Regions from separate parts of the Homo sapiens genome. Here regions 1, 2, 4 and 5 are each linked to region 3. Evidence: fine-mapped expression QTL. A gene starts in region 3. Each other region holds a variant in brackets. All regions are shown on one strand. Distances are from middle to middle. Region 1 has its middle 35 kb from the start of CPEB4. Region 2 has its middle 25 kb from the start of C5orf47. Region 3 holds the start of CPEB4 (cytoplasmic polyadenylation element binding protein 4). Region 4 has its middle 44 kb from the start of LINC01485. Region 5 has its middle 48 kb from the start of CPEB4.

The links. PIP is the estimated chance that this variant, and not a neighbour inherited with it, causes the effect. A credible set is the group of variants that fine-mapping cannot tell apart.
Region 1: its variant is the best candidate, but not a certain one, in a credible set for the expression of CPEB4 in whole blood (INTERVAL, PIP 0.72).
Region 2: its variant is the best candidate, but not a certain one, in a credible set for the expression of CPEB4 in Th2 cells (Schmiedel 2018, PIP 0.62).
Region 4: its variant is the best candidate, but not a certain one, in a credible set for the expression of CPEB4 in whole blood (TOPMed, PIP 0.58).
Region 5: its variant is the best candidate, but not a certain one, in a credible set for the expression of CPEB4 in whole blood (TOPMed, PIP 0.87).

The regions. Positions count from the first base shown.
Region 1 is chr5:173,850,997-173,854,996 of GRCh38, reverse strand. No RefSeq gene overlaps it. Among named protein-coding and RNA genes, the nearest start is that of CPEB4, 35 kb to the left of the region's middle. RefSeq lists a cis regulatory region at 1,106-1,646. The variant A/G (reference allele first, on the strand shown) is at 2,192.
Region 2 is chr5:173,962,130-173,966,129 of GRCh38, reverse strand. No RefSeq gene overlaps it. Among named protein-coding and RNA genes, the nearest start is that of C5orf47, 25 kb to the left of the region's middle. RefSeq lists enhancers at 1,717-2,599, 1,494-2,693. The variant G/A (reference allele first, on the strand shown) is at 2,439.
Region 3 is chr5:173,886,624-173,890,623 of GRCh38, reverse strand. It overlaps CPEB4 (cytoplasmic polyadenylation element binding protein 4), which reads right to left and starts at 2,275. Exons shown (of 10, transcript NM_030627.4): 1 at 1-2,275. The coding sequence starts at 890. RefSeq lists enhancers at 1-2, 3-504, 2,529-2,768.
Region 4 is chr5:173,833,038-173,837,037 of GRCh38, reverse strand. No RefSeq gene overlaps it. Among named protein-coding and RNA genes, the nearest start is that of LINC01485, 44 kb to the right of the region's middle. RefSeq lists a silencer at 1,038-1,332. The variant C/T (reference allele first, on the strand shown) is at 1,824.
Region 5 is chr5:173,838,140-173,842,308 of GRCh38, reverse strand. No RefSeq gene overlaps it. Among named protein-coding and RNA genes, the nearest start is that of CPEB4, 48 kb to the left of the region's middle. The variant G/C (reference allele first, on the strand shown) is at 1,672.

The DNA of each region.
Region 1 (4,000 bases), 36 kb after region 3:
AAGAAAAAGGAGAGGAAGAAAGAAGAAAGAAAGAAAGAAAGAAAGAAAGAAAGAAAGAAAGAAAGAAAGAAAGAAAGAAAGAAAGAAAGAAAGAAGGAAGGAAGGAAGGAAGGAAGGAAGGAAGGAAGGAAGGAAGGAAGGAAGGAAGGAAAGAAAGAAAGAAAGAAAGAAAGAAAGAAAGAAAGAAAGAAAGAAAGAAAGAAAGAATCAGGCATCCTAGGCGGAGGTGAGGTCAGGGAAGTGGGCAGGGGACCACTGATTTGCTTGTGAACAGGCTGCATTACTCATCTGTGAAAAATGAAGCTGATAATAATATATTTCATAAATGTGCCAACAGTACATGATAAGGCTCACCATTGTGTAATGTGCCATCAAGAAAGAATAACAACTGTCAATTAAACTCTGACATGCCATCAATTGTAAAATATACTCTGATTTTTGAGATGTTAAAATGTGAAAAAGAAAACAAAAAGTGTGTGTGGTAGAACCATCGAAATCTGGTGGTAGCAACCTATGAGGCAGAGGCAGAACTGGGATTTCCCTGCAGGATCCCTCTTTCTGTTCTTCCTTTGTTGTTTGATATTTGTGTTTCTTCCAGTATGGTGAAATTGTTTCTGTAGTTTCTTAGGACCATATCTTGAGAGTGGAGCCAAGAGGTTTGACTCACATGATGGGATGGAAAAAGTCACTTGGGCCGGGTGCGGTGGCTCACACCGGTGATCTCAGCACTTTGGGAGACAGAGGTGGGAGGATCACTTGTGCCCAGGAGTTTGAGATCAGCCTGGGCAAAATAAGGAGACCTGCTCTGTACAAAAACAATTAAAAGTCACCCTGGCTTGGTGGCATGTGCCTATAGTCCCACCTACTAATGAGGCTGAGGCAGGAGGATTGTTTGAGCCCAGGAGGTCAAGGCTGCAGTGAGCTATGATTATGCACTACCCTCTAGTCTGGGTGACGGAGTGAAATCCTTTCTAAAAAAAAAAAAAGAAAAGGAAAAGAAAAAGAAAAGGAAAAAAAGGTCACGTGGTATAGCGTGAAAACAACATAAGTTTGAATTCCTCTTGGGCCCCCCAGCTTTGATGGGACTTTGGGCAAGGCTCAAAGTCCCTAAGCCTTCCCTGAGCCTCTTTCCTCTTCTCGCTCTCCTGGTTGCTGTGAGGATTCGCTGAAGTGGTGTGCAGGGGCCTTTTAGCTCCTACTCAACACACAGTAGGTGCTCTATCCGTTCCCTTCCTTGAAAGTGAGGAGAGATTGGAAAACAGCCCCGAGATAAAAATAACCTTTGTCTCAACTCTCCTTCAAAACCCACCTGCCCTAATGAAGCTCCATCTTGCATTTTGCCTTTGAGTCAACAGTTCCTAGAAATGGACACAACTTCTCAGTACTCTGCATGGTGGCTGAATCAGCTCCCACCAATCTATCACATGCAGCCGGACGTACTTGCCATTTCAGTCACACTCGCTAAGTGCTTCCATCTAAACCTCTTGAGGCTACAAGGTACCAAATGTTTTGAATTAATTGGCTTCTATTTTCCTTTCTGTACATGCGCCTCAGTGCCTTTTTAGGGTGAGATTGACTCACAGAGTCCTTCCTGAATTCTGGCAGCCCTGATTCTACTTGGAGTTAATTATCTCTAATATGCTGTACAATTCCCTCTGTACCTTTTATGACATGGAGTTGAGGCATAATTTATCCAAGTCTATCATTGGAGATTTTTTTTTTTTTTTTAGAAAAAAAGAATGATGTGTGTGCCTCGTAAGAAAATCCACTCAGCCCATTAATTGTTTATTCACTGGGTGTTTCTCGAGGACAATCCTCTTTGCCCAGCATTGTGCTATGTCCCTTATAATTCATGACCAAGTGATAGGCATGTCACAAGCCTAGCAGTCAGTATTCTTACTCCCATTTGGCCAGGGAAATACTTAGTTCGGAATGGAGAATGGCTTGCTGTAGTAGTTCTTCTCCATTTGCTCTCTCTGCCATCTCTTTGTGCTGGGGTCCTTGTCCTCTGGGCTTCCTGCTGGGTTCAGCCAATTGAGGCACTAGCAGGAGAAGAGAGAAGTCGAAGTCTTTCTTCCCCATCCTTACCTAGTTAGGTGCCACCTGTCTGCCAGTCGTTGAGTCCCTCCATGAGTGTGATGCCTGATAGAGGGCAATGCCACCGTTTCCTCCGTCTGTCCCCTCTGCTCTG[A/G]AGGGGTAACAACTCCTCCTCGTTGCTCTTCTTTGCATGCTTCGTCATTCCTGGTTTATTTCCTCATCCTCCCAGCACCTGTGTGGTCCCTTCCCTCTTTTTCTTTTTCTTTTTTTTTCATTTTATAGTAGAGAGATGGGGTTTCGCTCTGTCACCTGGGCTGGAGTACAGTGGTGCGATCATAGCTCACCACAGCCTTGAACTCCTGGGCTCATGTGATCCTCCCACCTCAGCCTCCCAAGTAGCTGGGATGATAGGTGGGAGCCACAGCACACAGCATGTGGTCAGTTCCTTAAAGTCTCTTCACCTGACCCATCTGCAGTGAGTGGCGTTTCCTCCAGGACCCTGACTGACACACTCAATCAAGACCACGCAGCTGATAGCCACACAGCGGGCCTGGGATTCCACATTTGCCACAAGTCCACTCTCTCTTGAGTTCTGCCGTCCCGTGTCTGTTATCCTGAGAACTTGGGGTTTTCTCGGATAAGGAAAAGGAAGGTGTGTTTTATCTTCAAATGTCTTTATATTTTTGATAGGACACTTGGAGGAAATCAGGCTTTTTGAGAATTCAGTGACAGCATATGTGTTTCGCTCCCAAAACTCTATTCAAATTCATCCCATTGAAATCAAACCCCTAGTTCCTTTTGAAAGACTATTGTCCAGCGGTAGCTTCAAAGGCAATAGCAGGAAGTTATATCAACCTGCTAGGGCTGCCATAAACAAAGTACCACAAACTGGGTGGCTGAAAACAATGGAAACGTATTCTCCCACAGCTCTGGAGGCCAGGGTTGGAAAATCATGGTGTCAGCAGGGCCCTGTTCCTCTGAAACTCTGGGCAGATGCTTCCTTGCCTCTCCTTGCTTCCGGTGGTTGGCTGGCGATCTTTGATGTTCCCCGGCCTGCAGCTGCATCACTCCAGCCCCTTCCTCCGGTGTCATATGGTGTTCTTCCCTTATGTGACTTCATGTATGTCCCTTCTCCTCTTCTGGGAAGGCACCAGTCATACTGGATTAACGGCCCACCCTACTCCAGTATGACCTCATCTTAACTAATGACATCTTCAACAGCCCTACTGTCAAAGAAGGTCACACTCCAAGGTATGGGGGTCAGGGCTTCAACACGTCTTTTTGGGTGACACAATTTAACCCATATCAGAGCTGTCACTGAGGACGGTACTGACTTGGGGCAAAGAGGGTCTGATGGCCACTTGGAGACTGGTTTAGCTCCAAGTGACAGTCAGACCCTCCTTGCTCCAAGTCAAAAAAAAGAAAAAAAGATTTAAGAAAAGAAAAAAATCAGGAGCTATGATAAACATTTAAGGGTGGGCAGACCTTTTTTTCTTAATGGCCACAGGCAACATTGTTTTCTGAGCAAAGCCATCTTTATATGAATTTCTCATCTGGAGTGACAGGGATGGGGTGGTGGAGACTTAGAGAAGTGAATGATTGGATAGTTCATCATTTTCAAAGAGCTGAGAGGACCTGTGGAGACATTCAATGTGTCTGTGTGTATTGGTGGCTGGGCAGTGGGGAGCTGGGTAATGAAGCAGATGTTTAAAAAAATTCCCTTTCCTGTCTTTCAGAGCAACATTTCTCAGTCTGCACCAGCTTGTACAATACGCAGGAGTGGGAGACTGCAAGGGTAGTGAGGACAAGAGAATCCCAGGGCAAGGGGAGAAAGGGTCATGGAGGAAAAAAGACTTTGGAGAGGTTCTAGAAAATTGCAAGAATCAGCACCTCTTCCTTCCTCTTTCCTCCCTCCCTTCCTGCCCTCCTTTCATCTATTCGTCTTCCAGACTTCCCCTCACCT
Region 2 (4,000 bases), 76 kb before region 3:
CCATGTTGATCAGGCTGGTCTCGAACTCCTGATCTCGTGATCTGCCCACCTTGGCCTCTCAAAGTGCTGGGATTACAGGCATGAGCCACCGCCCCCGGCCTTATTATTATTATTCTCACTCCTAAAATTGTGTTTCTGGAATTCTTGGGTTTACAATACTAGAGAAAAGGGCCCTCCTTTTTCTTTGTTTCCTACTCCAAACTGATGTGTCTCTCTTGGTGGTTGGATCAAAGAGAAAGAATATGTACTAAGAAGTCTGTACTGTACTTCCTTAAAGTGAATAGAAATGTCATTTCAACTACCTTGTCCCTACTCCTAAAATATATACCCAGTTCTGGCCTCTGAGCCATACTCATGGGCTTAATGGAAGCCAGTAAGGCAGACAAGAACTGCAGAGGTGGGCCTGAGCCACCTGAGCTTGACAGAGCTCAAGGACTTCCCTCTGGCCTCCTTATCTGCCTCCCTACTAACTAATTACATGACCTCGAGCACCTGTCTTAGCTGAGAGTCAGTTTTTAAGAGAGGAAGTGGCCACATTTTAGGACTCACAATCAAAACTCACATTTGCTCTTACAAAGTTTATTTTTATTTTTTATTTTTAAAATTAGAGGCAGGGTCTTGCCATGCTGCCCAAACTCGTCTTGAACTCCTGGCCTCAAGTGATCCTCCCACCTTCCAAAGTGCTGGGATTACAGGCATGAGCCATTGTTCCCAGCCATTGTACAACTTTTGAGTTTTTTTGGTTTTATTTTGTGGTGTTTTTGTTTTATCCCCCAAGATGGTCTCACTTTGTTGCTCAGGCTGGAGTGCCATAGTGAGATCGTGGCTCACTGCAGCCTCCACCTGCTGGGCTCAAGCGATCCTCCATCTCAGCAGCCCCCTTCCCCCGCAGCAGCTGGAACGACAGGCACACACCACCATGCCCAGCTAAGTTTTTGTTGTTGTTGTTGTTGTTGTTGAGACGGGGTTTTGCCATGTTGCCCAGGCTGGTCTTGAACTCCTGGGTTCAATTGATCCTCAGCCTAGGTCTCCCGGAGTGCTGGGATAACAGGCGTGAGCCACCGTGCCCACCCATCTTACAACTTTTGTTTTATCATCCTATCTCTATAGTTTCAAATATGACAGTTACACCCAGATTAGGTTTAGGAATGAAACTTTTCTTTTAAAAACAAAATAAAACTTGAATAAAAAGCCCTGATCCTGTTCATTGCTAATCCAGCGGCAAGAAGGTTTAAAGGAGAAGATTTGAGATTAGTAGATGAGAATTGGGACCTAGGCACATCCCAGCCTTGGCCAAATCACCCACCTTCTCCATGAGACAGTTCTATGATCTGTTCAATACCTCATGGAAGTGTTATCCTTGCTAATGTATGTAAGGGCCTGATATATAACAGGGGATCAGCATTTACTAGTTTCTTCTGAACCAAATCATTCCGTCATTGAAGTCAGCAGTGCTGAGAGTCATCTGATGGATGTGACTATTCCACATTCCCACCCTCACCCCACCCCACCCTCACCCCACCCTCACCCCACCCCACCCCACCCCAACCCTCACCCTCACCCCACCCCACCCTCACCCCACCCCACCCTCACCCCACCCCACCCCAACCCTCACCCTCACCCCACCCTCACCCTCACCCCACCCCACCGTCACCCTCACCCCACCCCACCCTCACCCACCCTACCCCACCCAGCACGCTGTTGGAATCAAACCTTCTGTCACCAAACACTCAAGGACCCACAGCACTTTTCCCTCAAACATGAAAGGGGAATTGTGCCTTTGAAGCGGCGTTGTGGTCTGGGGTAAGTACCCGAGGTTCGTCGTCTCGTGCCAGGGAAATCAACAACGCGGACATACAAGAAGTGAGTTTAACCCTGGAGGTTCAATAAGCAAAAGAAAGAGAATAGCTCTCTCTCTTAGGAGAGAGAGGGGCTCCCGGGTGGGACTTCCGGCTCCACAATGAAATGCATGGGATTTTATAGATGAGCTTGAGGAGGCGTGTCTGATTCACGTAGGGCCAGAGAGATTGGTCGGACCAGGCGTGACACTTGCATCACGCACAAAGAAGCTGGCCATCCCACCCTAATCTTTTATTATGCAGATGGGGGTCTCTACCTGGCCAACGCCATGTTGCCTGCCTTTCTACTGCACACATAGCGACAAAGAAAAGGAAGAGGGAGCCTCCATGTTGAACATGCCTGGCCCCCAGCTAGCCTTTTCCTGTTGGCACAGCTGCCGGCATTTACCTATGCAGGCTTCCAGCTTGCTTATTTATGTCTGCAGCTCGATTTTACAGGCTGCTCTTTGTTAGAAAAGAAATGATTTGGGGGCTGCTTTTTGTTAAAAGGGAAGCCTGAGGACTCTCTTACCCTCGCTAACCGCCTAAATAATTTCCTTTTAGCTCCTGTATCACCTTCATTCCTCCAAATAAGGAAGC[G/A]CCAGGTCTTTCTTGGATCCTAGCTAAAACATTCTTTGCAGCTTCACATAATTATTTTACCACCACCCCTCCCGGTTCTCTTCCTGGGTAACTGATTTCACGAGTTTAAAATGCCCTGCTGCCTTTGGTGGGTTCTGGGGAGTCACTCCTAGGTCTCACAGGGAGGTGGGAGAAGAGTTGAAAATAATCTCTTTAAAATGGTGACATTTGCTTGATCACATTGACATTTTTAGGGTATCAAAGCCGGGCTTCCTGAAATAGAACTCCGATGAAAAGGATAAAGAAAGCTCAAGCTTAGCTGCTGGCATTTGCGTGCACTGATTCACCACCTCCAGCCCAGCTACCCACAGGCAGTTTTTCCCTGACACTGAATCAAATTACACGCAATACTAAAGGCTGGAGGTTTGCTCACATTCTGATTTGGGATGCTGCTGTTCATTTTTAACTTCCCTGAGACAATGTGTACTTTTCCAACTCTGGTCACCACGCTGAATCACAATAAGACACTTTTTCCAGACAGCCAACAATGACACCCAGCTTGACTAGAGAAAGATGATAACCCAAAATATCCTGAGAAGACTCAAGGCACGGCAAAATAAAATGTTCTCTAATGAGGACGACTGAATTGGTATTGCTAGGTAAGAGTTCCTAGTGGGGCGCAAATGTTCATTTTCTAAATTCTTAGAATTTATTCAAAGCCAGTGGCGCCTATTCTCAAGAGAATCAGCGGGTGAGGGGTGCTGAGGGAAGTTTGCAAAAGAAAATTTTGAAGGAGGATATAGGAATGATGAGAAAGGGAGACAGCATATCATAGAATGGCAGATTCAAAGCACTAGCTGCTTGTCTCAAGTGGCATTTGAGGCACTCATGAGAAACAAGGGCTGGTCTGAGACAGTGAAAAGCATAATCAAAATAGCTTTATTGTGCAAAGTAACTTCTCTTTTTCTTTCTTCTGGGATGGTAGTAGAGGGAAGACGAATTAGGAGGATGCACTGGAACTAGGACAGGGCTTAGAAGCTACGTAAGTACCTAGAACTCCAGTAAAGTAGGTGTGGGCAATGAAAGCAGCTCTGAAAGTGGCTCACAAGTGGCAGGGCCAAGCACCCTTCCAGAACACATGTATGGATGCCAAAAAACAAAGTGGGGTTTCAAAGCTTCTTGAAACATACTAAAATGTTACAGTGGTATAGCCCAAAGTATGTTCCATGTGTTACCTGTAAACAGAATCTGTAGTCAGAGAAATTGGAGTGAGAGGGACACTTTCAACAAAGTAAATAGGTTTCTGGCTGGGCACGGTGGCTCACGCCTGTAATCCCAGCACTTTGGGAGGCCAAGGCGGGCGGATCACCTGAGGTCAGGAGTTCGAGACCAGCCTGACCAACATGGAGAAACCCCATCTCTACTAAAAATACAAAATTAGTTGGGCATGGTGGTGCATGCCTGTAATCCCAGCTACTTTGGAGGCTGAGGTAGGAGAATGGCTTGAACACGGGAGGCAGGGGTTGCAGTGAGCTGAGAGCACACCATTGCACTCACTCCAGCCTGGGCAACAAGAGCAAAAC
Region 3 (4,000 bases):
GAGGAGGGTGTTGGTGACGGACTCTGGTAGCTGCTCCACGGAGAGGGGGGTTTGTTAAGATTATTCGCCAAATGAGGCAGCTGGTTAAAAGCAGCATTTCTATGTGTGAAGGGTGGGGGATGGGGACTGGCAGGAGACCTCCTTTGCTGCTGATGCTGGCTGTGATGATGCTGGAAATGAGGGTGATGTGGGTGGTGCTGTGAGAGAGGCCCGATCTGAGGAGAGAAGCTGCCTCCAAAGCCAGGGCTGACATGATGGGGGAAATTTTGAAACAACAGAGCACCGTTATTAGCCGAAGCAGCAGGGACCCCTCCCTGGTGAAAGAAACTTGCATCTTCATTGATTATTGTAGAGGAGGAAGGCGCTATCGCTGCTGACCAGTTACTGAAACCAGTAAGAGACGATGCGCTAGATGTCAAGGGTTGGGTTGAAGTACCTAGCCCAGTGGCTTCTTGATAATCAAACCCTGTCAACACTGGAGATTCGATCCTTATTTTCTCCTTCCCATTGCCATTTTCCGAAGAATTGTCCCCTTGATTTTCTTCTGATTTTGCCTTCTCTGTTTCAGGCAGTATTCCAGCTTCCTGACCTGGACTTGGGGAAAGCTGCTGCTTTTCTAAGGGGTCTTGCTGTTCCTGTTGCTGACTTTTTGCTTTTTCTGACCCCAAGATCTCATCCTGAATGTTATGGGTAGCTGGAGCAGGAAAAAGCCAAGCTGACCCAGCACTGCTGCCATTGGCAGCTGTGTTATTATTTATAAAAGCAGCAGGGCTGGGGGTGGCATTTTGGTGATGGTGTGGAGGCTGCAGATGTGGATGGAATCTGACTGGAAAAGCAGATTTATTCCCAGTATTGCTTTGCACTAGCACTCCAAACCCGTAATCCCCCATTTATTATCTTTAGGAGCAGAATCTCACAATAAAAAATGACAACCTGATGTCTCACGCCTTTTTTTTCCTCTACCCCAAATTTAAGTTGTTTGCTTGCTTGCTTGAAATGTCTTATTTATAGCTAGCTCAAAGATCGCAGCTTATCACCTTAAATTGTTCTGATTTGGAATTCTGGTCTCTGAAAGAAAAAACAACTCTTAAAAAAATCTCTTAAAACATTGACTTGGATCCAATTGGGCTTATTTTTAGGAGGGAATAAAAATGAAGAGGGTAAAAATCAAGTCTTTGGTTAGTAAAATAGGCGCTTTCTTTTTCCAAAGGAAAATGTACATGAATGACAAAAACAGAGCTTCTCAAGCATCTATGGATGTAGAAGAATAAGCCTTGCGCGGAGTAAAAATATAGATATATATAATTTAACAATCACATATGGTTTTCCTCAGCAGTTTAGATTCACTCACATAAAAATTAGAATAGGACTAAGAGGGGAATACGTTCTTTTCTTGGCAGCTTGGTTAAAAAAAAATCAGGAATAATTTAAGAACATTATATATTATATATTTATATATATAGATTATATTAGGTTATCTGGGGTGGGAAGTGAATTCCTGGTTTCGGGAGAGGAAATCAGCATTGACTAATGGAAAGATGATTGCAGGGAGGTTTCTGCTGTTCCTGGTCCTGTTTTCTGCTCTTTCGCAGGGTGCAGTTTTGGCCTCTGGGGCTGTTCCTGAGGCTCCGGGTGCAGATCTTGCTGCGGTCGCTGTTCCTGGGCTCCCCGCGGCTTCCTCTCCCCCATGAAAGGGGTTGGAAACACCCGTTTCTCCCTCTTGCGGGGGTCGCGATCAGGAGGGATTAGCGAGACTCGACGAGGGTGAGCGGGCGGCCTGGGGGTGCGGGGACCGAGGGGGCGACCTGGAAGGTCCTGCGGTTTCTGCCTCTTCCCCTCTCTGCGGCTCCGGGGTTTTTTTCCCTCATGGGACCCAGGGGCGGTTTGTTCAGTTCCCTCAGTTCGATTCTCCGCAGAGAGGGAAAAAAGAGGAAAAAAAGGAAAAACCCACTACCGTAGTTATTTTAAAGGAGAAGGGCCTCCCCCCTCGGCTTTCTCTCTCTTTTCCCCCAGAATTTTTTTTTAAACTATAATTTAGAAGGCTTTTGTTTCTCCTCACGGTTGCTGGGCCGTCGCCGCCGTCGCCGCTTTACCCTGGTCCCGCAGTCCCCGCTGTCGTTGTTGAGGACTCCTCCTGGTTCTTCTTTTTCTTTCCTTCTTCCTCCTCTTCCTCCTCTGCTGTCGCCGCTGCTGCCGCCGCCGCCGCCGCCACCGCCTCCCGGTGCCCGGGTCCCGCAGCCGCGGCTGAGTCCTTCTCCTCAGGACCGAGCCGAGTGAAATGACAACCAGCTGGAAAGACCCAGAGACACTTCCGGTTCGAAGAGGGAGGGGTGGGGGTAGCACTCATTCCCCACCTACCTGCCGGAAGACCAATCATCTGTTAGAACTCAGGCGAGGCCACGCCCCCTCGCTTCAGAGCTACTCCCAGGAAGGTCGAAAAGTTACCTCCAGAGACGCCTCTTCCGTCTGCGCCTCGCCTAGTGAGGCCCGGCGCCTGGAACCCGCTTCCCCCACCCAGAGTGAGCGCAGCAGGTCGCCATCTTTTGTGTGGGCAAGGGACTCCTTTGATATTTCTCTTCCCTAACTGGGCTTTGCAGGAGGAGCAATAGGGACGTGTCAAGGAGAACGGATTCCTCGCTCACGAAGGCATACGGTCAAGGTGTTGGAGATCGAAGTGGCGGCCCGTGAAACCGCGGATGAATGAGAAGGGTGCCCACAGTAAAGGTGGTGCTCCAAGCATCACGTGCTCTGGCCCGAGCTCCGCCCCAGAGGGATCTGGAAGGGGAGGCGGGTCTTGCCAGCAGCTGTGCGGTGCCTAGAACTGCGTTTGCCCTTGCCCAGAATGTAGACCTCACGAGGGACTCTCCCTTAACCTTCCATTCGCTCACCCGCACCTCCCACTCTCCCATTCTGCTAGGCTCGCATCTGGTGCAGTCTCCCAGGTGCAGAGATGCAGCTGAGGCGTCTGTGGCTATGCCCCCGTATCATCCCGATCTAGTACACCTTACACGCAATACCAGAGGGAAAATTCCAAAACTAAAATTTTATCTTGACCCTCACATGCTCCGATTTCTTCTATGGTTGCCCATTATTTCGAAGATAAAGGCCAAACTTGTTAGTCTGGTATTCAAGCCTTTCTACCTAATGGGTGGTATATCTTAGTGCCTCTTCCCCCTCCAAACACACTCTCAATGCCTTTTTACATGTCCTTTCCACTCTTCTCCTTTGGTAAATTCCTATTTATTTCTAGGAATCAGTTCAAAAGCCACCAACAGCATCTTCTGAATTCTCTCTTATAAGCGTCCACGGCCCTGTGTACCTCTCGTGCTTGTTTCTCACACTATATTGTGATGGTTTATGTCTTCCAGACCTGTGCTGGACCGTGGGCTCTTTCAGGAGCAGACATTGTAGATAGGAGACATCAGTGAATGAATCCTGAAAACGTGAATGAACAAACCAGCAACAATGAAGTCTTCCCTGAGTGACAGCCCCCCAACCCACTGCCACCCCTTCCACCCGTCACCCACCCCCCACCCCTCACTCCTGTTTCCAAGTCTGAATTAATTATTTCCTTCCTTTTGCCATTTGGTTTGGAGCTCACATATCAGACTTTTCATTATGTTTGGTACTCAAGGGCTTTAATGTCCTGTTTATCTTTGTACATTCCCAACGCTATGACCACCATCAGGGCTTAGGATAATGCTTTGCTCTCAGCACAGCTTTAAATATGTTAAATAAGTGAGTATTTTCCTTTAGCAGGAAGAAAAATGAACAAAGAAATCAGGGTAGAGCCAGAAGTAACTGGCACAACTAGAGGGAAAAAAAAGATACCAAGATTAATGAAAAATAGTATGAACAAAGGTGGCTTCCATTTCATTTCCATAGCCTTCCTCTAATGGTCTCAACTTCTGCCTCAGTCTGTCAATCCTCCATCACTTCCGTGTAGAACACCTGAGGGCCTTCAATCGGTGATTTTATTCTCTTTCATTGTGCCATGAGC
Region 4 (4,000 bases), 54 kb after region 3:
GCCACTGCACCCCAGCCTGGGTGACAGAGCAAGACTCTGTCTCAAAAAAAAAAAAAAAAAAAAGAAAGGGAGACAAAAAGTGGAAGGACTGGGCTACTTATATATCAGCAACATGTGTTTGAATTTTGGGGTATAAATTAATTAAGCCAATAATCATGAGTTTAAAATCAACTCTTCCTCTCAGTAGAACAATGAATAAAAAGAGCTACAATTTACTTAGTCTTTAGGAGGGTGTGTGCCAGGCACTTGACTAAGCATGGACAGAAATGAGTGCAGCCCTCCTCCAGCCCTGAGAGGTAGGGTTCTTCTCCTATTGAGAGATGGGTTTAGCTAGCTCCTGTGCTGTGTTGGAGTTACACAGCTCTTCACACTGGTCCTTCTGACCCCAGATTCCTGGCCCAGTGCACGACGGGACTCTTCCACTCTTGGGACAGCCTGCTAAGTGTGCTGAGGATATCGGTAATGGTGGCAAACCATTGTGTTTCAAACCAAACCAAAAAGGAGGAATCTTGCAGGAGGTTCCATCCCAGGATAAATGCAAAAATATGTCCAGATCAATTTCAGGAGGAGAAACTGATCAGTCCACCAAGATGTAGCAGATTACTACAATGTGGTGGCTTTTTATTCAGAAAAAAAAAAATAAAACCTACTACTGTTAGGGGGCATATATGCCTTACCTTGCTTGCAGGAGGGAGGACAATCTCGCTGATAAGCCCTGGGTAGCCAGGCTGTTCAGCAGGTCCCCCCAGCCCCTGTTTTTTTGTTTTTGGCTTTGTCTACATGGCACCACAACACTGGCCTCACTAGAAGACATAGTGAAAAGTGTTGTTGTTGGGAGAAAATAGCCACAGGGTGCTCTATGTCTCTGTTAACACTTCATTGTAAACATGGGTTGTGGATTTAGAAAGTATTGAATTCAGGTTCTGACGCTTTTCTCAGTAGATTCCTGTGGCAAGCTACTAACCCCCTCTAATAATAATAGTGCTGACAGCATAGGATTATTGTGAGGGTGAAGTGAGATGCTGGTTGTCAGGGGTTTTGCCCCATGTCTGGCACACAGCAAGAGCTTAAAAGGTGAGAGTTATAATTATTCACTAGCTTAGATTACAGGCCATCCCTCAACCAGTCATGCCGGCCAGGCGATGTCATGCTCTGATTGGGCAGCCCTGGGTCACAGTTGCATTCTGAAAAGATGATACTGTTGCATGGACTAGGTATTGCAGGAAGGCAAGGGCGTGGACAGTGACTAGGAGATATTGCAGGCATTCAAACAAGAGATGATGTGGCTTGAAAGAGGGGAGCGACTGTGGTGCCAGAGATGAGGGCCACGCATTGTGCTTCTGGAAAGCTGTAGGGAGTAAGTCGTGAGTTCTCCTTCGGTGCCCCAGTAGCCCTGCTGCTTCTTCTCCATGGGAACAGGGAAGGAGGAAAACACTAAGTATCAAAGGTAGAGGAACACATACCATCAGGCTAGCTTTCCTGTACCAGATCAGGCCACCAACATTGCCCTTCTTGGCATCTTGGATTTCTAAGAAAATGCAACCCCATGGAGGGAGGGCATATTGTTAAGCCAGAAATAGGCTCAAGAGCACACTGCCAGCCATGCGAACCACACGCCACAACCAGCCCTTTATTCATGGGGTGCTGGGAACTATCTTCCTCAAGCCTCTACAACCCATCCTTGATTGCAAGCAAGTCCCTGGGTTTCAAAACAGGAAGTAGGCCAACTTGAGTTGCTCTTCTTCCTGGCAGCTTCCCTTCCTGGCAGCTCCTCCTCCAGACAAAGAAAGAGGCAGATGTTTTGCAAAGAGCAAGACGACACT[C/T]TTCATGGAGCTCTGGGGCAGGAGACAAGATGTACAATGGCACAGGACAGGGGACCTGAGTAGAGGACAGCATGGCAAGGCTGAGGCATGGACCAGCACCTCTGTATGAGGCACACCTGGAATTGATAAAGCAAGTATCATACAAGATGGAGAGGGACGTGTCTCTCATTTGACAGGCTTTGAGTTAGAACAGTCAGGATTCACATCTCAGTCTGACTCCAAAGGCCCAGACTTTCTTAGTCAACCACTTGATTGTTTTCACCTGCATAATACCTCATGACTCCAGCTGATATTTTTCCCACTGGGTTGGATGAACCAGTGGGAGAGCAATCAGAGACCATTGGCATCCATTGCCAGGAGAAAAGAATGGCCTTGTAGCTAGCTGTCTATACACTTATATGCATGTACTTTGCATATTGCAGAACATAATGAAAATGTTAGGGCTTATCACTATGAGCAGTTCTACCATTTATCATACTGATTCCTCTCTAAATTAGGACAGTCTAATTTCCCTGAAGTCAGAAAGCACCTCTATCAGTTTCATCCTGTTCATCCAAAGGATGGTACCCCATCAGAATCTCACACATGGCAGTTCATTGTATATTGCTTTAAACAGAAATAAATTGAATTATGCGCTTTATCTGTGCTCCACAGTTCTTCGGAATTTAAATGATTGCCTCATCAACGTTAAAGAGCTTTTCAGAAGCGAACACTTTCTCTAAACTCTGAAGTGATTGGTAAACATTAGTTTCAAGGAGTGTTAAGGCCATGATATTGGGTCTTAATACACAGGGGCACATTTCTCAGAAGGAGACTAAGACATGCGTGACGGTGCTGTGTCCAAGACACCCATTGTGCCTCCCAGTTTGACTTTGACAAGAGTCTGACCAACACCCAAAGCCCTCCTCAGCTTAAACTAAGGCTTGTCTTGCCAGAAACCAAAGTTCCCAGCCATTAATCAATGTCTAGTCCCTACCAGGCTGAGAATAGACTCCTTGCCTGTAAAGACATTCAAGGAAGCTGCCAGTGGCTTCTGGTAATCGCCAGTGTGAGTGGGAAAGACATAAACTATCAGCAGGTTGGGGGGAGAAATGGAACATGAGGGGCTACTGTTTTTGGCTTCATGCAAAGCAGGGTGTAATTTTTCAGAAAAAAATAAAATAGTGAAACACGAAGAACATAAGAAGGTCAGTGTCACTTCCTAGTTCACCCTGAGTTAGACTTCAAACAGTGAGTCCTTGTTTTCCGTCTTTTCTATGGGGCAAGATGTGATTGCAACTGAAGTACATTGATTAACCCAAAATAACTTTCCCTCAATTTGCTGGATGCCTAGGAATACTCCGGAGACCCTGCTTTTGTTTTGAGTTAGCCATTTGGGAGCTTGGCACCGATCCCCGTGTAGCGATTCAAACTGAGTGAACCAGAAAAATGTCAGGAACTACACAAGGACATATAGTACAGTTTAATTAGTTTAAGGAGAGGGTGGGTCCCCCCTTCTCCCTAAACATCACTCAAGCAAATTGTTTTTTTTATGGTCTTGTTAAAATAATTTCATGGTTGCAGTTTTGTTCTTATACTAACTAAGCAGGACCGCGTGGGTTATTAAAAAGGGTAGTCAGCCTGGAGAAGGTGGGTGCATTCTGTTTCCTTTTAAAAAACATAGGAGTTTAATCACCTGGCTTGTGCAATGACATATTAAAGAATGTCAGCGCAAGGCTGAAGCTCCTATTAATAATAGTCGTTAGCTAGGAAATTCTTCTGCTGACTTTAATCAGGAATTTTCCATAGTAACCAAGGCTGCCCACGGGTAGCCAGGCAGTACGGATTTTCATTCCATCACGCACATTTTTCTGTTCATTGTGATACAGAGAACATTACTTACTGGAACATGTGAGCAGAGCTATGCTCTCTGGGAGTGGAAATCTTTTACTGTTCCTCTTTCTTGGAACGGTTCCTCAAAAAGATTGGAGAACTGTCATCTTTCAAGGAAGACAAGCCACCTGTTTCAAAATACAGGCCTGTGCAGTTAATTCCAGGCTTCTGCATCTTTCTGGCATTTCTCTCTCTTCTGACATAAATCTTGTAGTCGTGACAAAGATGAGAAATCAGGGCAACCCTTCTACCTTTTGTGGGAACCAGATTCTGATTGCACAGAGACATCATTCCCCTGCTGAAGA
Region 5 (4,169 bases), 48 kb after region 3:
CAAAATATGTGTTTATTGGTAAGGCTTCTGGTCAACAGCAGGCTATTAGTGGTTTGTTTTTGTTTTTGTTTTTTTGTTTTTGAGACAGGGTTTTGCTCTGTCACCCAGGCTGGAGTGCAGTGGCGTGATCACAGTTCACTGTAACCTCAACCTCCCAGGCTCAAGTGATCCTTCCTCCTCAGCCTCCCAAATAGCTGGAACTACAGGCTGCACTACCACACCCAGATAATTTTTCTTTATTTTTTTTTTGTAGAGACAGGGTCTCACTGGTTGCTAGGTCTGGTCTCAAACTCCTGGGCTCAAGCAATCCTCCTGCTTCAGCTTAGTAGATAGGTTTTAAGGAAGTCAAGTTATAAGCTGGTATGACTGTGATCAGGGGGTACTGCCGCTAACCTCTGTGTTATTCAAAGATTAACTATATTTTAAATTACACACGTGGCTTGCATTTATGACTCACGTTATGTTTCTATTAGATACCAATGTTGTAGCTCATGGTCTATGCACACACTGGGGACTAGAATACCTTGCCCAAACAGCTATGAGCTTATTTCCAGAAACTGCATGGACTCCTTCCCCAGGTCTGTCCTCTCAAAGGCTGAGCAAGCCGCCCGTGCGCAAACCTTGAAGCCCATTGGTGGCCAAGGGTAGCTGTTGGTTGGGAGGGGAAATAGACAATGGAGTTTGGCTGTGAGGCCGGGGCACCCTCAGGTGTTTTTGCCTGCACAAGGCCCATCTCAGTACAGATACAGACCAAGGCGGGGAGAGAAGTGGGGCAGGAGCCGGGCCTGGGGCTTGGGATTGGCTTTCCAAGGTCACCACCTGTAGGCGCAAAATGCTGAGGCATCTGAGATTTCTAAATTCAATCTTGACCTTCCAGATTGTTAGGCAGATATATTTGTCAAGGTATGCAGCTAGACATATTTTATTTAACAGTTCATTAGCTTGATTTATAACTTTTAATATTTAGACGTATAATATGTGGGTCTCTGTTTGTACTCTTGCCCTGGGCAAGTAAAGTAATTACCATACAGGTTTATAAGGGCGAGATACAGGATGTACGTGGTGCAGTGGGAGCCTAAAGGAGGGACACGCTCTGCCTGGGACGGAGTGGCTTCTGCATAACAATGAAATCCAGGGGAAAGGGTCATGGCTGGGGACCACGACTACAGTGAAAAGAAGTCAAACCTATTTTTCTTTTCCTTGGCAGAAGGGAGGAGGAATACCTGGGCATTTGGCTGCTGGGCTGGGGACCCTGGTGAGCCAACCAGTCTTACCCCCCTGCACTGCCTCACATTTGCAGCCATGGGGCACCTGCTTGTGCCCCATCCGTCTGGTTCTTCAGAGTAAAAAGAAGATGGATTCAATGCTGAGGGGGCCCAGAGTCTCATCTGGGCCTTTTACCAGCTCTAGTTCTTTTACACTTCCCAATGGCAGTACCATGCACAAGATGATATGACATCCTGGGGAAGACTTTGGGATAGACCTTGGTGTGGGACTGCTTGGGTTTGAATTTCAGGTCCCTTTCTCTGGGTCTCAGTTTCCCCATCAGTAAAATGGGTTTGAAAATAATAGTACCATAAGAGAGTTCTTAGGAGATGAACTGAGATAATATTTGTAAAGAACACAAAGCACCGTATACACCCCAGTCCTTACTAATTTTATTGACAGATG[G/C]GACACTGTGGGGTAGAAGGTGAGGAAGCTGGCTTAAAGACCACACCAGGTTTCAGGACCAAGGTTTCAACCATGTTCTCCTTCCCTCCAAAGCTTGTGTTCTTTCCCGCTCTCACATGTGAGCATTTCTCAACCACAAAGATAAATTCATCTTCTCTTGCATGTGAGGTGTATTCATTGAGCTGGAGAGAGAAGACTAAAAATAACGTTAGGTGTAAATTTCATCCAGTGAGAAGGGCTGTGCCTTGGTTGGGCTGGGCATGAAAGGAAATGCTTAGCTCTCCATTTTCTCCTTGCTTTTCAACCAAAAGCCTTTGGCCTGAAAACACACCTGAGCCTGTGATGAGTTTTGGAAACCACAATTGTGATGACAGGGCGGGAGACCTTGCCAAGGCTCTCCGAGACTTGACCCTGCCATCCCTGCTACAGAACTCCCCTCCTGCCCTCTCCTTCTCCTCAGAGTGCTAGAAGGAGCCAGGTGGGTGCTCTCCTCAAGACCTCATATGCATGCAAAGACCCAGATCTTCCCAACGCTAGCCACTGCTCAAATGTCACAACCAGAGAGTCTCCCCGACCACCCTACCTCAAGCCTCTTCTACCACCCCACCCCAACCCACTCTCCAGCATGGTGCCTCCTTTTTAAGTCTCATAGCCCTTAGAGCAATCTGAAACCTTGTTCATTTCTGCGTCAATCTGTTTCTTGCATCCTGCCCCTTTAGCGTGGAAGCTGGAAGACAGCAGACCCGGTGTGTCGCTCACTGCTATGTCTCCAGAGCCTCCAACGTGCCTGATGCCTATTAGTCCTCAAAATTTTTTAGTAAATAAATGTATGCATGGAGGAATGAATGAACAAATAAATGAAACCTCAGTTCTGGTCCCAACTGTGCCACTAAATTGCTTTACCTCTGGGTCACATTCTTCTCAATTATGAAACGAGAGGGCTGCATTCGATTAGGAATTTTTTAGGGGTACTTTGTGGGTAACACTGAAGGGTTTAAGCAGGAGCGTCATGTGGTCACATTTGTAGTGAAGAAAAAAAGAAAATCACCCTGGGACCCAGTAGAAAGTGGATTGAAGGTGCCTATTCTGGAGTTCAGGGAGTGGCCAGGAGCTGTGACAGACATACAGGCCAGAGACAAGTGAGTCACCCAGGTTTATCAGGAGACAGCAGATAAAGCTCACAAACCCTCTCTCAAGTGACAAACTGCTACCAGGAACCCAAGCAGATTCTAGAGTTCTATATGGGGTGGTTGAAGCCTCTCTGTCTCTATCTCTTCCCCACACGCATATAAACACTGGCCATCCCCTCCCCTGCTTTGTTGCCACCTGGGGCTTACCATATGATGACAGGTTAATCAGGTGATTGTGACAGATTACAAGAATACTTAATATTGATGAATCTTCTTCCTAGTGACTACTTACATATCATCGACCCTTTTCCATGTGGAGCTTACAATAGTACCTATAATATTATGTATGTACAATAACACAATACAATACAACAGTAAACTACAAAGCTATACATAGAGAACAAATCAGGATTAGGGAAAGAGAGATTTAATAGATCAGGGCCAGGAAGGAAGTTAGGACATAAACAAGCAGACAAAGGATTCTAGGCGTTTATCAAAGTTGGCCACATATTTAGATTGAGCTTCCCAGTGGCCAGAACAAAAAGGAAAACATGATGATGCTTGAGAATATGAAAAAAAAATATGATGCTACATTATTTGTGCCATATAAGGAAAAAGTATACTAATGTCTCAGAAGTAAAACTTTCTTTTTTTTTTTGAGATGAAGTCTCGCTCTGTCACTCAGGCTGGTGTGCAGTGGCACGATCTCAGCTCACTGCAACATCTGCCTCCCGGGTTCAAGCAATTCTCTGCCTCATCCTCCTGAGTAGCTGGGATTACAGGTGCCCACCACCACACCAAGCTAATTTTTGTATTTTTAGTAGAGATGGGATTTCACCATCTTGGCCAGGCTGGTCTTGAACTCCTGACCTTGTGATCCACCCGCCTCAGCCTCCCAAAGTGCTGGGATTACAGGTGTGAGCCACTGTGCCCTACCCAGAAGTAAAACTTTCTTTGGCACCTGAATTGGAAATGACTTACATTTTTTTAACATGAGATAATCCTATTTATTTTTAAAAACATAAGTATACATAGACAGAAAATTTTGAGTAAATACACCAAATCATTGATTACAACTATTTAGGTAGTAGGATGAGAATGTTAGTGACATATTACTTTCTCAGTGATCTTATGAATTTTCTAAATTTTCTGGAATACATGGTTATTGAATTTTTTTTTTTTTTGTATTTTATATATTCAGGCTAGAGTGCAATGGCATGATCAGAGCTCACTGCAGGCTTGAACTCCTGGGCTCAAGCAATCTTCCTTCTTTAGCTTACCAAATAGCTGGGACTACAAACACATGTCATCATGCCTGGCTAAGTTGATTTTTTTTTTTTTTTTTTTTTTTTTTGTAGATTCTTGCTA